Homo sapiens: one gene and its partners. The protein of the gene in region 1 purifies or fractionates together with the protein of each later gene. This does not show direct contact. Each region holds a gene or a part of one and is shown on either strand. Other genes may lie near its edges.

What was found.
Region 2: the proteins of ERN2 (region 1) and SEC16A purify together in Homo sapiens (affinity purification with mass spectrometry; one large-scale study listed by BioGRID and IntAct). This does not show direct contact.
Region 3: the proteins of ERN2 (region 1) and UGGT1 purify together in Homo sapiens (affinity purification with mass spectrometry; one large-scale study listed by BioGRID and IntAct). This does not show direct contact.
Region 4: the proteins of ERN2 (region 1) and PDIA6 purify together in Homo sapiens (affinity purification with mass spectrometry; one large-scale study listed by BioGRID and IntAct). This does not show direct contact.

Annotation. Positions count from the first base shown.
Region 1 is NC_000016.10:23,692,705-23,696,568, reverse strand, and holds part of ERN2 (serine/threonine-protein kinase/endoribonuclease IRE2 isoform a precursor), read left to right. Parts: intron 1-590; coding exon 591-675; exon of another isoform or gene 676-838; intron 839-1,179; coding exon 1,180-1,369; intron 1,370-1,450; coding exon 1,451-1,550; intron 1,551-1,641; coding exon 1,642-1,841; intron 1,842-3,864. UniProt on the Homo sapiens protein: Induces translational repression through 28S ribosomal RNA cleavage in response to ER stress. Pro-apoptotic. Appears to play no role in the unfolded-protein response, unlike closely related proteins.
Region 2 is NC_000009.12:136,476,537-136,480,169, reverse strand, and holds part of SEC16A (protein transport protein Sec16A), read left to right. Parts: intron 1-1,339; 5' UTR 1,340-1,461; intron 1,462-2,485; 5' UTR 2,486-2,554; coding exon 2,555-3,633. UniProt on the Homo sapiens protein: Acts as a molecular scaffold that plays a key role in the organization of the endoplasmic reticulum exit sites (ERES), also known as transitional endoplasmic reticulum (tER).
Region 3 is NC_000002.12:128,174,571-128,178,203, forward strand, and holds part of UGGT1 (UDP-glucose:glycoprotein glucosyltransferase 1 precursor), read left to right. Parts: intron 1-202; coding exon 203-288; intron 289-2,243; coding exon 2,244-2,328; intron 2,329-3,261; coding exon 3,262-3,350; intron 3,351-3,633. UniProt on the Homo sapiens protein: Recognizes glycoproteins with minor folding defects. Reglucosylates single N-glycans near the misfolded part of the protein, thus providing quality control for protein folding in the endoplasmic reticulum.
Region 4 is NC_000002.12:10,806,282-10,809,914, forward strand, and holds part of PDIA6 (protein disulfide-isomerase A6 isoform d precursor), read right to left. Parts: intron 1-3,633. UniProt on the Homo sapiens protein: May function as a chaperone that inhibits aggregation of misfolded proteins. Negatively regulates the unfolded protein response (UPR) through binding to UPR sensors such as ERN1, which in turn inactivates ERN1 signaling.

The sequences.
Region 1 (3,864 bases):
GGCAGGTTAGCATCCAATGCCCACTGCTTCTGTCCGGTCCAGTCTTTTTTCTGTGGCTATACTCACTCTCATCACTCTTCCAACTGCCAGAACTCACCTTACCTTGAAGTTGAAGCTGATTCAGTGTCAATTAAAAGGATTCAGTTACAACTGGTGGAGGTGGGCAGAATGGCAGAGGATGTAAAGGGAAAACAAAGCAAAACAAAACAAACCTGTGCAGAAGATGCTGAAAGAGGGAGAGAAATAAAAGAGGATAATATAGCAAACATCACCTCCACCCGTTCTTTCCATATATCCATTTAATCCTCACAATAATATTGTGTGGGCTCTTTAGCTTTAGCTCCCCACTCTACAGATGAGAATACCGAGGGCACAGAAGTGAGGAATTTGCCTAAGTAGACAAAGAATCAGTGGCAGCACCAGGCATTGGATCCAGACAGTCTGGCACTTGGGCCCTTGCTCTTACCCACTGCACCAGGCTGAGCATGGGAGGGTGGAGGCCCAGAAAATGTCAAGGTGAGTCTGGACTGGGCCAGTGGCCGGCAAAGGTGGGCAGAGGCTCCCTGAGTCACCACCCTCCTCTCCCCCAGCTGAGCAACTCACCGTAGTGGGGAAGATTTCCTTCAATCCCAAGGACGTGCTGGGCCGCGGGGCAGGCGGGACTTTCGTTTTCCGGTGAGTGGCAGCCAGGAGCCAAGCTGGGGACATGGCACTCACAGCCCTCGTGGGCACTGTCCCCTGGAGAGACATTCTTTCAAAGACTCCCCGAGGTGGGTACAGGTTGATCCCTCACTCGCCAGTCCTGCTCTTTCCTTTATCTGTTTTTTTTTTTTTTTTTTTTTTTTTGAGTCTTGCTCTGTTGCCCAGGCTGGAGGGCAGTGGTGCAATCTCAGCTCACTGCAACCTCCGCTTCCCAGGTTCAAGCAATTCCGGGCCTCAGCCTTCCCAGTAGCTGGGATTACAGGTGTGTATCACCATGCCCGGCTAATTTTTATATTTTTTTTAGTAGAGATGGGGGTTTCACCATGTTGGCCAGGCTGGTCTCGAACTCCTGACCTCAAGTGACCCGCCCGCCTTGGCCTCCCAAAGTGCTAGGATTACAGGTGTGAGCCACCATGTTTGTCCCTTTATCTGCTTTCCCTGAATGCCCCCCTGCCCCCGCCATCACCCACTTTCCAGGGGACAGTTTGAGGGACGGGCAGTGGCTGTCAAGCGGCTCCTCCGCGAGTGCTTTGGCCTGGTTCGGCGGGAAGTTCAACTGCTGCAGGAGTCTGACAGGCACCCCAACGTGCTCCGCTACTTCTGCACCGAGCGGGGACCCCAGTTCCACTACATTGCCCTGGAGCTCTGCCGGGCCTCCTTGCAGGAGGTGAGTTGCATTGCGGTTCAGGGAGGGTGAGTGGGAAGGTCCGGGCTGGAGAGTGATGCTTTGGCCCTTGCTGCTGCTCAGTACGTAGAAAACCCGGACCTGGATCGCGGGGGTCTGGAGCCCGAGGTCGTGCTGCAGCAGCTGATGTCTGGCCTGGCCCACCTGCACTCTTTACACATAGGTACCCGCACTTCCCCTGCCTCCCGCTCCCTGTCCTTAGCCCCTGCCTTCCGCCCTCAGCAACCAGCTTTCTTTCTGCCCCTCTCCCACAGTGCACCGGGACCTGAAGCCAGGAAATATTCTCATCACCGGGCCTGACAGCCAGGGCCTGGGCAGAGTGGTGCTCTCAGACTTCGGCCTCTGCAAGAAGCTGCCTGCTGGCCGCTGTAGCTTCAGCCTCCACTCCGGCATCCCCGGCACGGAAGGCTGGATGGCGCCCGAGCTTCTGCAGCTCCTGCCACCAGACAGTCCTGTGAGTCTATCCACCAAGTCCTCCAGGCACACAGCTGCCCCAGGCTGCAGGAATCCGTCCCTGTCCCAGTTCCCCTCCTGAGGAGACTCCATGACACTTGCTGTGTGACTTTGAGCTGCTCCTCCAAGCTTGTTTCCCTTAAAGAAGGGATAATTTGTCCCTCCTTCTACAGCAGTATCAGGACTGTTTTGCCACCCAGGGGACATTAGGCAATGTCTGGAGACATTTTTGACTGCCATGACTTGGGAGGGAGGGGCTACTGGCATCTGCTGGAAATGCTGCTAAATGTCTTACAGGACAGGACAACACCCAACACAAAGAACTAACAAAATGCCAGTTGTGCTGAGGTTGGGAAACCCTGAGCTAGAAAATGGTTTGTAATCTTCACTGTGCTTCACAACCACTGCGCAACTTAAAAAAAGAATGCCCATTGCCGGGTGCGGTGGCTCACGCCTGTAATCCCAGCACTTTGAGAGGCCGAGGCAGGCAGATTGCTTGAGCTCAGGAGTTCGAGACCAGCCTGGGTAACCTAGGGAGACCTCGTCTCTACCAAAAGCACACACAATTTAGCCGGTGTGGGTGTGTGCATCTGTGGTCCCAGCTACTTGGGAGGCTGAGGTGGGAGGATCGCTTGAGCCTGGGAGGTGGAAGTTCCAGAGTCAAGATCACACTACTGCACTCTAGCCTGGACAACAGAGTGAGACTCTTTCTCTCAAAAAACAAAAAACAAACAAACAAACAAAACCCCAGGCCCCACACCCCGTGATTTTTACCTAATTGCCTGGGTCATTTTTATGTGGAGCCAAGTTCCAGAACCACTGGTATCGAAGGTTTTGGAGGGCATCAGATGAGCTAATTAGTTGATACACAGAGCAGCGTCTGACCCACACAGACACTTGCGTTTGGGACCCCTGAATTACGGATTTTGAGTCACAGTGTGTGGGCGGAAGTTGAAGCCAGAGAAATGGATGCCAATCACACAAAAGGACAGTCACCAGGGAAGGCTGCCCCCACTCCTAAAGTTGAGAGAAAGCTCAAAGTGGTGAGCAGGGCTCAAGGACTAAATGCATGATGTCATGAGACTATACAGTTTATATTTAAATTAGTGGCCTATATATATATATATTTTTTTTTTTTTGAGATGGAGTTTCGCTCTTGTTGCCCAAGCTGGAGTGCAGTGACATGATCTCAGCTCACTGCAACCTCCACCTCCTGGGTTCAAGTGATTCTCCTGCCTCAGCCTCCCTAGTAGCTGGGACTATAGGCAGGTGCCACCATGCCCAGTTAATTTTTGTATTTTTAGTAGAGATGGGGTTTATGCCATGTTGGCCAGGCTGGTCTCGAACTCCCAGCCCTCAGGTGATTCACCTACCTCGGCCTCCCAAAGTGCTGAGATTATAGGCATGAGCCACTGTGCTTGGCCCTATATATATATATTTTTGAGACAGGGTCTTGCTCTGTCATGGAGTGCAGTCATACCATCACAGCTTACTGCAGCCTTAAACTCCTGGGCTCAAGGGATCCTCTCACCTCAGCCTCCCAAGTAGCTGGGACTACAGGCACACAACATGGCACCCAGCTAATTTTTGTATTTTTTTGTAGAGGCAGGGTCTCACCATGTTGCCCACGCTGGTCTTGAACTCCTGGCCTCCCAAAGTGCTGGGATTACAAGGTGTCAGCCACATGCCTGGCCCAATATTTTAACATTTGAGAAATTCCACATAAAATTTGGATTTCTGGATTTTCTTTAAAAAAAAAAAAAATCAGAATCGCTTGAGGCCAAAAGTTCAAGATCGGGCTGGGTAACATAAGAAGACCCATCTCTACAAACAATTTAAAAATTGGTCAGGCATGGTGGCACATGCCTGTAGTCCCACCTACTCAGGCCGAGGTAGATTGCTTGAGCCCAGGAGTTTGAGGTTACAGTGAGCTGTGGTTGCGCCACTGCACTCTAGCCTGGGCAACATGAGCAAAGCCCCAACAAAAAAAAAAACAAAATCAGCTCTGCCACCCTGGAGAGTCC
Region 2 (3,633 bases), on another chromosome or scaffold:
ATCAGAGGAAGATGCTCTGCCTGTTCTCCTTTCAGTCCATATAAAATAGAGCTGTGAACATTCTTTGTTTTCAGATGAGAGCCTAAAACCTCCATGAAGCCTTTGCTGCTGTTCCTAGTAAATAGCTTGACTTAAAATACATTGATCAGTGTTTTCTTCTTTTTTTTTTTGAGACAGTTTCACTCTGTCGCCCAGGCTGGAGTGTTGTGGCTTGAACAAGGCTCACTGCAGCCTCAACCTCCCTGGCTCAAGCGATCTTCCCACCTCAGCCTCCCGAGTAGTTGGGACTACAGGCACGCACCACCACGACCGGCATTTTTTTTTTGGTGATGGGGTATCGCTGTGTGTTGCCCAGGCTGGTCTCAAACTGCTGAACTCGAGTGGTCCTCCTACCTCCCAAAGTGCTCGGCTTACAGGTGTGAGCCACTGCACCTGGCCAGTGTTTTCTTCTTTTATCTGAATATCAGAAAGATTTCCAAGAGACCAAAATAATATACATCTGCAAAGATGTGTGGATTGGCCAGGCACGGTGGCTCACGCCTGTAATCCCAGCACTTTGGGAGGCCGAGGCGGGTGGATTATGAGGTCAGGAGATCAAGACCATCCTGGCTAACATGGTGAAACCCCATCTCTACTGAAAAGACAAAAAATTAGCCTGGCATGGTGGCAGGTGCCTGTAGTCCCAGCTGCTCAGGAGGCTGAGGCAGGAGAATGGCATGAACCTGGGAGGCGGAGCTTGCAGTGAGCCGAGATCGCACCACTGCACCCCAGTCTGGGCGACAGAGCAAGACTCCGTCTCAAAAAAAAAAATGTGTGGATTAAACTACAGAGTCCTCCCCTTTGGTTTAATTTTTCCTTTGATTGGCTAAACTTATCTGTTTGTTCATGAGGGTGGTGCTGACAAGAAGAAAGACTGATAGAAAGAAAAGAACTTTCCTAAAGATATAGTCCTTGAATTTTTGCCTTAAGAGGCCAGGTTAACTATTCAAGTTTGTATCTACTATGTTTTATTTAAAAACTGATGGAGGTTTTTGCCCCTTTCTTTTCTGTAAGAGGTTTCTTGGCAATTCTGCCTGTTGTTGAAAGTGTTGGAATCCAGTCTGTGCCTTGTAAAGCTGCTTTAAGTTTCCTGGGAGTTTCCATTCCAGGCACAGTTACGGCTCCAGTTCAAAGGTAACATCTTGCTGGTGGTCCTTTCAGACCTTAAGCCAGTCACAGTACAAAAACGGAGACCTATGAAGAGGTGTGATAAAAGGCATTTAGATGAATATATTTATTTTGCAGTGCTTTTTAAAAAAATGATTGTGTCACTTTTTATTTATTTATTTTTTTAAAATAGAGACCGTCTTGCTCTGTTGCCCAGGCTGGACCGCGGTGGTATAATCATAGCTCACTGCAGCCTCGAACTCATGGACACAAGTGATCTTCCTTCCTTAACCCCCTGAGTCCCTGGGACTACAGGTGTGTGCCACCATGTCTGGCTAACTTTCTTCTTTTGTAGAGACAAGGTCTTGCTATGTTGCCCAGGCTGGTCTCGACCTCCTGGGCTCTGGCAGTCCTTCCACCTTGACCTCCCAAAGTGCTGGGATTACAGGCATGAGCCACTGCACCCAGCCTATTTTGCAGCTTTTATAACTATACTTCATAATGCTCTTTCATCAAAGAAAATGGAAGAATGAATTTTAAACTTTTGTATCCCTTTTGAAATTTAAAATTAACATGTATGGAAAGTATGATATAAAGTTTTCCTTTTTTTTTTTTTTTTTTGAGCTAGGGACTCACTGTGTCACCCAGGCTGAAGGGTAGTGGTGCTGTCATAGCTCACGACAGCCTCAACCTCCCAGGCTGACGCAATCCTCCTGCCTCAGCCTCCTGAGTAGTTGGGACTACAGGTGTGCACCACCATGCCTGGCTGATTTTTGTATTTTTTGTAGAAACGAGATCCCCCTGTTGCTCAGGCTGGCCTCGAATTCCTGGGCTCAAGTGGTCCTCCCGCCTTGGCCTCTTAAAGTGTTGGGAGTACAGGCGTAAGCCACCATATCTGGCCAGTTTTTCTTTCTTAATAGAAGAGTTGGCTCTTCCTGGATCTAGGGATGGTTTACAGGAAAACATTGAGTATCTGTGGGTCTGGTAGCATATCACAGCAGTGGTCAGGTTCCGCACTGTCCCTGTTGTTGTGGCGCGGGTCTGCGGCAGCAATGGGCCCTGTGAGTAGAGGATCCCAGGGGAGGGAGTGGCCATCTAGACATACTCCATCAGCTCGCAGCCAGGCCATCCAGGGTTCTCACTCTGTCCCCTGCCCCCCAGAACAGTTCCTCAGGGACAGGTGTTCTCTGCTGGGGTGGGGTGTAGGGGAGAGAGAGTCCTTGGGATTTAAGTGACATAAAATCATGTTCAATGTTTCTCTTTTTCCTTAGTTTTCCTGATTGCAGCTAGGACTTTGAATATATGGATTTTATGCTGATTTTCTCTTTTTCTTTTCCAGCTCCAATTAAGGAACAGCTATATCCTGCTTCCTTCTGTAAGCAGCATCGACTTGTGCAAGGGTTCAGTCATGCAGCCACCGCCCCAGACGGTCCCGTCTGGCATGGCTGGGCCACCTCCAGCCGGGAATCCTCGGAGCGTGTTCTGGGCTAGCAGCCCTTACAGGAGACGGGCTAATAATAATGCAGCAGTGGCTCCGACAACTTGCCCGTTGCAGCCGGTCACGGATCCATTTGCTTTTAGTAGACAGGCGCTCCAAAGTACACCACTGGGCAGTTCGTCCAAAAGCAGTCCACCTGTCTTGCAAGGCCCAGCCCCCGCAGGGTTTTCTCAGCACCCCGGTTTGCTTGTTCCTCACACACATGCCAGAGATAGCTCTCAGGGACCCTGTGAGCCCCTGCCTGGACCTCTGACACAGCCCAGAGCACATGCCAGTCCGTTTTCTGGTGCATTGACACCTTCAGCACCTCCTGGGCCTGAGATGAACAGGAGTGCAGAGGTCGGTCCCAGTTCAGAGCCTGAAGTTCAGACTCTGCCATATCTTCCTCACTACATTCCAGGAGTGGATCCTGAAACGTCTCATGGGGGCCACCCTCATGGGAACATGCCTGGGCTCGACCGACCCCTGAGCAGGCAAAACCCACATGACGGTGTGGTCACCCCAGCAGCATCCCCTTCCCTCCCTCAGCCTGGTCTGCAGATGCCAGGACAGTGGGGGCCAGTGCAGGGAGGCCCACAGCCCTCGGGGCAACATCGTTCACCCTGCCCTGAAGGACCTGTTCCCAGCGGGGTGCCCTGTGCCACCAGCGTTCCTCATTTCCCCACCCCGTCCATCCTACATCAGGGCCCTGGTCATGAGCAACACAGCCCTCTGGTGGCTCCCCCAGCAGCCTTGCCCAGTGACGGAAGAGACGAGGTGAGCCACTTGCAAAGTGGAAGCCACCTGGCCAATAACTCTGATCCTGAAAGTACATTCAGGCAAAATCCCAGAATTGTGAATCACTGGGCAAGCCCAGAGCTCAGGCAGAATCCAGGAGTGAAGAATGAGCACCGGCCCGCCTCTGCTCTTGTGAACCCCCTCGCCCGGGGAGATAGCCCAGAAAACCGTACGCACCACCCACTGGGGGCTGGGGCCGGGTCTGGCTGTGC
Region 3 (3,633 bases), on another chromosome or scaffold:
GATTACAGGCGTGAGCCACCGCACCTGGTCTGTGCTAGAGTTTTTAATGTGTAGTTTTGGTTTTTTAAGAGTTGCATTGATTTGTTTACTGTGTTATTCACATTATAGTTGATTGATATTTCAGAAATAGAAGTAACTGTTCCTCAGAAATAACATTTTGGTGTTTTGAAGAGAGCTAACTGGACTTTTCTTCTTGTCCTAGGGCTACTTTCAGCTGAAAGCCAACCCAGGAGCTTGGATCCTCAGACTTAGGAAGGGACGCTCTGAAGATATTTATAGAATTTACAGGTAGGAGTAAGTGATGCAGTTACATTATCCCAGAACTTTTAGAAATGAGCATTAGCTCTAATTGAATACTACCCTGGCAGTTAGCCAGGCAACATGAATTTAATTTGCAGTTGTATGTGATGAAACAGTGGTTTTTCCAGGAAATTAAATATGGAAGAATTGTTAGAATAGAATTAGATAATAAGAGGTATAGATGCTAATGAGTATAGTCAGGCTTTATTCTTTAATTATTCCTTTGTGCTAACAATATCCCAGAATCAAATCATTCTATCAGTGTGATGCGGCTCATAGATAGGCAGATGAGAAACTTGAAGAAAGGAGAAAAGAAAGAAAGAACAGCCACACTTTTCTGCCCAGAGAGTGTATGTGTTGACCCTGAGTGATTTGCAAATGCACAGTACATGGAAGCTTTGGTCTTGAAGCTGTGCTGTTAGTGCTGGTATTCCTTGGTCTGTGGTGGCATAGTAAGAACATTCCCTCTATAGCCAGCTTTTACCTTAAGGTTTACTGCACATATTTATTAGTTTAAAAATAATTATGTTGCCTTTAAAAAAGTTTGATATAAATTCTGCTTAACACAATTTAAATTAGTTTTAAACTGTGTGAAGAGGCTTCCCGTCAGGTTGTGTAGGGGATGATTTCCATTAGGGCACATTTGAAGCACTCTGTAGTATGTCCTTGCCTTAATTAGCTCCGTAGCGACACACATGAAACAGTGGATTAGTGCCTGGTTCTTACCCAGGAAATAGAAGAATTCTGTATTATAATAACACCATTGTAAACAGTAGAAGGTTTTTTCCCACATAACATTTTCCTCAGATAAGGTTTTACAAAATTTGGGATGCACTTCCGAACTCCTTCCCTTTTGGATGCCCTGGCCCTTGCCAGCCCTCCCCTTCCCAGGAGCATGGTGCCCCCTCTTCCTAGCTGTTCAGGGCCCCACCCCCATTAGAATCTTCCTTTGCCTGAGAACCCTACTCTCTGCTAGATGACAGCAAATGCAGTGAATTCATGTTGTAATTATGACTTTCTGCACCTTGAAATTTGGTGACTGGAAATTTTAGGCATTGCTGTTGATTAGTAGGGAAACATACATTTAATTTTTCTTCCTCTGCTCCTGTCTGCCTGCAAATAGAATTTGTTACAGTTTTTCTGGTAGCGTATAGACACCAGGTTGAGTACAGGGCCTATTGTTGACTGATTGTTGCCTCCGGCAGAAAGAGCGAGCAGATTTCCTTTACAACACTATTCCAGTTAAAGAGTAGTGGCCGGGAGTGATGGGTGATGGCTCACGCCTGTAATCCCAACACTTTGGGAGGCCGAGGAGGGTGGATCACTTAAGGTCAGGAGTTTGAGACCAGCCTAGCCACTATGGTGAAACCCTGTCTCTACTAAAATACAAAAATTAGCCAGGCGTGGTGGTGGGTGCCTGTAAACTCAGCTACCTGAAGGCTGAAGCAGGAGAATCACTTGAACCCCGGAGGTGGAGGTTGCATTGAGCCGAGATTGCTCTACTGCACTCCAGGGCAACAGAGCAAAACTCTGTCTCAAAAAAAAAAAAAAAAAAAAAAAAGAGCGGAGGCAGTGTGGTTCCAATAATGGTTCAGGGGGCCTGTTCCCTGCATTCCTTTATCGAAGGCTCTGTGCTTGGCTCAGAGCTTGTGAACACAGGCGGTTGTTTAGTACTCACCATGTGGTTACCACACATGGGTGCCTCTCACTACGTGATGGGTAATTTGCAAGAGGACTCACAAAGGAGGTTTGGGCATGCACCTTATATAAAGAGAGGTTTCAACACGTGCTTCTGTGCAGCTCGAAGGAGCTTAAGGAGCAAGAAGATAGCTGGATCTGGAAAACTCCTTTATGAGAAGGATGATGGACTCAGATGCTCTGAGAGCATTTGCTGCCTTTTGAGAATTGTGCCTTGTAATATTGATCTTTCTTTTCTCGCAAAGCCACGATGGCACTGATTCTCCCCCTGATGCTGATGAGGTGGTTATCGTCCTCAACAACTTCAAAAGCAAAATTATTAAAGTGAAGGTGAGTTTGGTAAAAGTAGTGGCATTCTGTTATTGGACAGCTGTCATTTAAAAATATGTATCTTGGAACCAGCCCAAGAGTCTCTTTGGAATTTGCTATGGCAATTATAGGGATACTGCTTTAAGGCAAAATGTCTTTGTAACTGTGAGTTTGTGGCTTCCCTCAACTGAAAGATTGTACCTTTTGGGTAATCTCGGTGTGCAGAACATGTCCCATCTTATATAAAATATTCTCATAGATGCTATGTTGTTTATATAGCCACAATTCATAGTGTTGTTGATGATTCTTTTCTCAATATTGGGGGAACTGGCAATGGAAATTTTCAACAATAATAAAATGATAGTCCTATTTAATTTCTTTTGACTTGTACTTTCCGTTCTCTGAATGTTGAAGCTCTTAGTGCCTTAAATTCAAGTACAGTATATTCTTGAAGAAAGAATCATTACACACAGTGAAACCTAAAATAGGCCATCCATTGTTGAGAAGAAAAATGGTCACTGTACTGCCAAGAAGAAACCCCTGTTTGTGCTAGTGAATCCTGAAAACTGGTCATAACATGAAATACCTCCCTCCCAACAGCTAGAGCCCCCAGCAGCCACACTCTTCCCTGGAACTAGCTGTTGACTCATTGAATCGTGCTTCTGGTTTCACTGCACAGTTGAGTTTGCGGCTCTTTGCCTATGTTGCAAGCTGAAAATGGGGTTCATCTAATTAAAAGAGGTTGCTGTCTCCTCACATAAGGTTATGATGTGAATGTCCTGGCGAAGATACTTCTATTGAATCCTTCTAGACTCTGGGTGGGGTTGTGCCTGTTTGTGAGAGAATTGATTGATAATTCCCTATTGATGACAGGCTCACAGTGTATATCCAGTGAGAGGCAGTTTTATGCCTGTGAGACATACTGGGAGTAAGGTTTATCACATTTGATTGCAGGTTCAGAAGAAGGCAGATATGGTGAACGAAGACTTGCTGAGTGATGGAACGAGTGAGAATGAATCTGGATTTTGGGATTCCTTCAAATGGTAAGTTGACATTGTAAGAGTTATGTTTTTAAGGAAAAACTGAGATATAAGCACCATCCATCCCTCCTTTTTGCATCTTGTGATTCTGTCTGGGCCTTTCACATTCTACTTTGTGCAGCTACATCTCACACTTATATTTGGCATAGATGAGTATTTTCCACTCGATTGATCCAAAAGAGGTTCATGTCTCCTAGTGGGGAAGTTACTTCTGCTCCATACTTTGTGACTCTCATTGCCTGTACCTGCTCTTTGGAAATTTGACTGCTCCCTGCTCAGTTTACTT
Region 4 (3,633 bases), on another chromosome or scaffold:
CACTGAGCCCAGGGAGGTCGAGGCTACGGGTGCAGTGGGCTGTGATGCACCACTCACTCCAGCCTGATAGGGCAAGACCTTGTCTCAAAAAAAAAAAAAAAAGAGAGAAAATATTTTTGTACTGCTGTTTTGTATAATGCGTTTTAAGGTAAGTGTTTTTACAAGAGCCAAAAAGTTAAAAAAAAAAAATTAAGTTTAGAAAGTAAAATGTTGACCAGATGCCATGGCTCACACCTATAATCCCAACACTTTGGAGGCCAAAGTGGGAGGACTGCTTGAGGCCAGCAGTTCAAAACCAGGCTGGCCAACACAGAATAGCAAAACCACATCTCCTAAAAAATAAAGACAGAAAGAAAGAAAGAAAGAAAAACGTTACAGTAAATTAAGGTTAATCTATTATCCAAGAAATAAAATTTTTAGAGCAACCCCCAGTCATGCAAGCTGCATTCACGGTAAATGTCCTGTACAGGTGTACTATTTTAATCTTTTATATCATATTTTTACTGCACCCTTTCTATGTTTAGATACACAAATGCTTGCCATTGTGTTACAACTGCATACAATATTCAGTACAGTAACATGCCGAACAGATTTATAACCTAAGAGAAATAAGCTATACCATGTAGCCTAGGTTTTTAGTAAGTTATGCCATCTAGGTTTGTATTAAGTACACACTGATGTTATTCACAATGAAGAAATCGTCTGATACAATAGCAATTAAAGAAATTTCTATTCCTGTCTTTTCAGCATCTCTGAAGTTGATCATAATTCAGATCACGTCTCTAATGTTAAGCAACACATGACAATATACAAAAATTTGCTGATTACCTCTAGAACAAGGTAAATAATGGAATATCCTCAGACTATTCTTGACTTCAACAAGGTTTTCCTATTTGCATCATGCTGGCTTTTGGATTGAAATAAATACACTTTTTAATTTTTTTTGAGAGAGGGTCTTGATCTGTCACCCAGACTGGAGTGCAATGGTGCAAACACAGCTCCCTGCAGCAGCCCTGACCTCCTGGGCTCAAGTGATCCTCCCACCTCAGCACCCCCAGTAGCTGGGACTACAGGTGCATCCCTGGCTAACTTTTAAATTTTTTGTAGAGACAGGGTCTCCCTGTGTTGCCCAGGCTGGTCTCAAGTGATCCTCCTGCCTCTGCCTCCCAAAGTGCTGGGATTACAGGTATGAGTGACCACGCCAGGCCAAAATGTACTTACAATGTTAACGAAATTTCTATCTATTCCTGTCTTTTCAGCATCTCTGAAGTTGATCATATCATTTCTTCCTTTTAATTTGTTGATATAGCAAATTATAAGTGAGACTGGCCTGTGTTCTCAAGTAGTGTGTGTACATGCCATCTTAGTTACATTTTCACATGCTTGCTTCACAATTAGAATTTGGAAGATTTCAAATGGACCTTTTTGGAATAACTAAATGGTACACTTTTTCTGGAAGGAGTGTACACCATTGTTCATTGTTTTACTGCTAAATCCTCCATCATACAACACGTTCAATTTTTCAAATCACTATCAAATGTTAGATCACTTAATTTTTGACAGCATTACTAACTAGAAAGTAGGACTTATCCCCATTTTGTAAATAAAGGTCTAGACCAAATGGCCCATCTATGGTCATACATATAAGGGGCAGGGCAGCTCTCCATTTCCAAGCTTTTCCTATTACACCATGCTGTCTTTTTAGTGCTCAAGATAAAGTGGTTCTGTACGCTATAGGTATGAATGAACAATTATGGTATTCAAGATTTACACTGCATTTGAATCACAGATATAGCCAATACTGTAAGAACTTATAAAACTGTTAATTTTACTAATAGTGAAGCCACTAAAGGGTTATCATTCAGAGGAAAGAATAGATTTATGCTTTCTAGAAGGAGTATTCCAGTTGCCATGTGGAAGGTGGATTGGGAGAATTATCCAGAGTGGTGTCACATAAACCAAGATACATGTGGAAGGGGCCACACTAACAAATGCTACTGGGAGATAAAGTAGCAAAGACTTAAAACCATCTACTGATTGGATTTAGTGACAAAGAAGTCACTGGGAGCCCTGGCAGTTGTGGTGGAGTGAAAATAACAGGCATGCAGTCTGCAGAAGGTTGGAGAGAATATAGGTAACTCTTTAAGCAGGTTTCATTATAGAGACCAGAGGCAGGCAAATGTAGAAAACAAGGAAGGTTTTCTTTGAAGATGGGAGTGATCTAGGAGAGGAAGACATATGCAGTGGGAGAGGCCAAAGATAAAATACAGGGAGTATCTGAATAAAATGCCCAGAGTCAGAAGAGGAGCGGGAACCCAGTCAGTGATGGAGTAGCCTTTGATAGGATGATCTCCTTTTCCATTTCAAGAGGTGGGAAAGGATGCCTGTGAATGGATGCCAGGCTAACCAAAGCGGGGCTGCTCTCTCAGTAACAGGTTATCCAGCATGATAGCCACTAGCTACATGTGGCTACCCCAAACTAAGATATGCTGGTAAAAACACACTGAATTCTGAAGACTTAATGGAGGGAAAAATGTAATCTCATTATTTTTCTTTTTTTTTGAGACGGCGTCTCACTCAGCTGCCCAGGCTGGAGTGCAGTGGTGCAATCTTGGCTCACTGCAACCACTGTCTCCTGGGTTCAAGCGATTCTCCCGTCTCAGGATTACAGGCATCAGCCATCATGCCCGGCTAATTTTTGTATTTTAGTAGAGATGGGGTTTCACCATGTTGGCCAGGCTGGTCTTGAACTCCTGACCTCAGGTGATCCGCCCACCTTGGCCTCCCAAAGTGCGAGGATTACAGGCGTGAGCCACCGTGCCCGGCCTCAATATTATTTTTCATTTTGAAAACACATGTTTAAATGATCTTAGATATACTCAGTAAATATATTAATTTCACCTGTTTCTTTTGGCCATTTTAAATGTAGCTACTAGAAAATTTAAAATTACATATATGTTTGCATTATATTTCTATTGGATGGCACTGCTCATTAATCTTTTCACTGCTGCAGAAAAGGTGAAGTAGAGTTTGACACGTTTAACAAAGCCAAGTAAATCAAGAACATAAGCACTGACAGTCCTAACTCTGAATAAGCTTGAAAGTAAGACTAAGGCTGGGTGTGGTGGCTTAGGCCTGTAATCCCAGAACTTTGGGAGGATGAGGCGGGTGGATAACCTGAGCCAGGAGTTTGAGACCAGCCTGGGCAACATGGCAAAACTCCATCTCTTGTAGAGAAAAAATATGAAATACAAAAATGCAAAAATTAGCTCGGTATGGTAGGGTGCATCTGTAGCCGCAGCTACTCCAGAGGCTGATGTGGGAGGATTGCTTGAGCCTGGGAGGCAGAGCAAGACCCGGTCTCAAAAAAAAAAAAAAAAAAAAAAAAAAACCCAAAAAATAGGATAATCTTCTACAGAGATGTACTACTTTTAAAGAACTTTATCTTTTTTGTAAAATCGATATGAATTTGGTACTTGCTCAGTACACTGAGCCTATTGTGAAATTTTCAAAAATGGAAAAGCAAAAGAGTAAGTTACAGATATTTTCTACTTAAGAATTTTAAAATTACTCCAATGTAACCATTTTTAATGGCTGAACCATTTAGTCAATCCACTACTGACTGAATTTTGA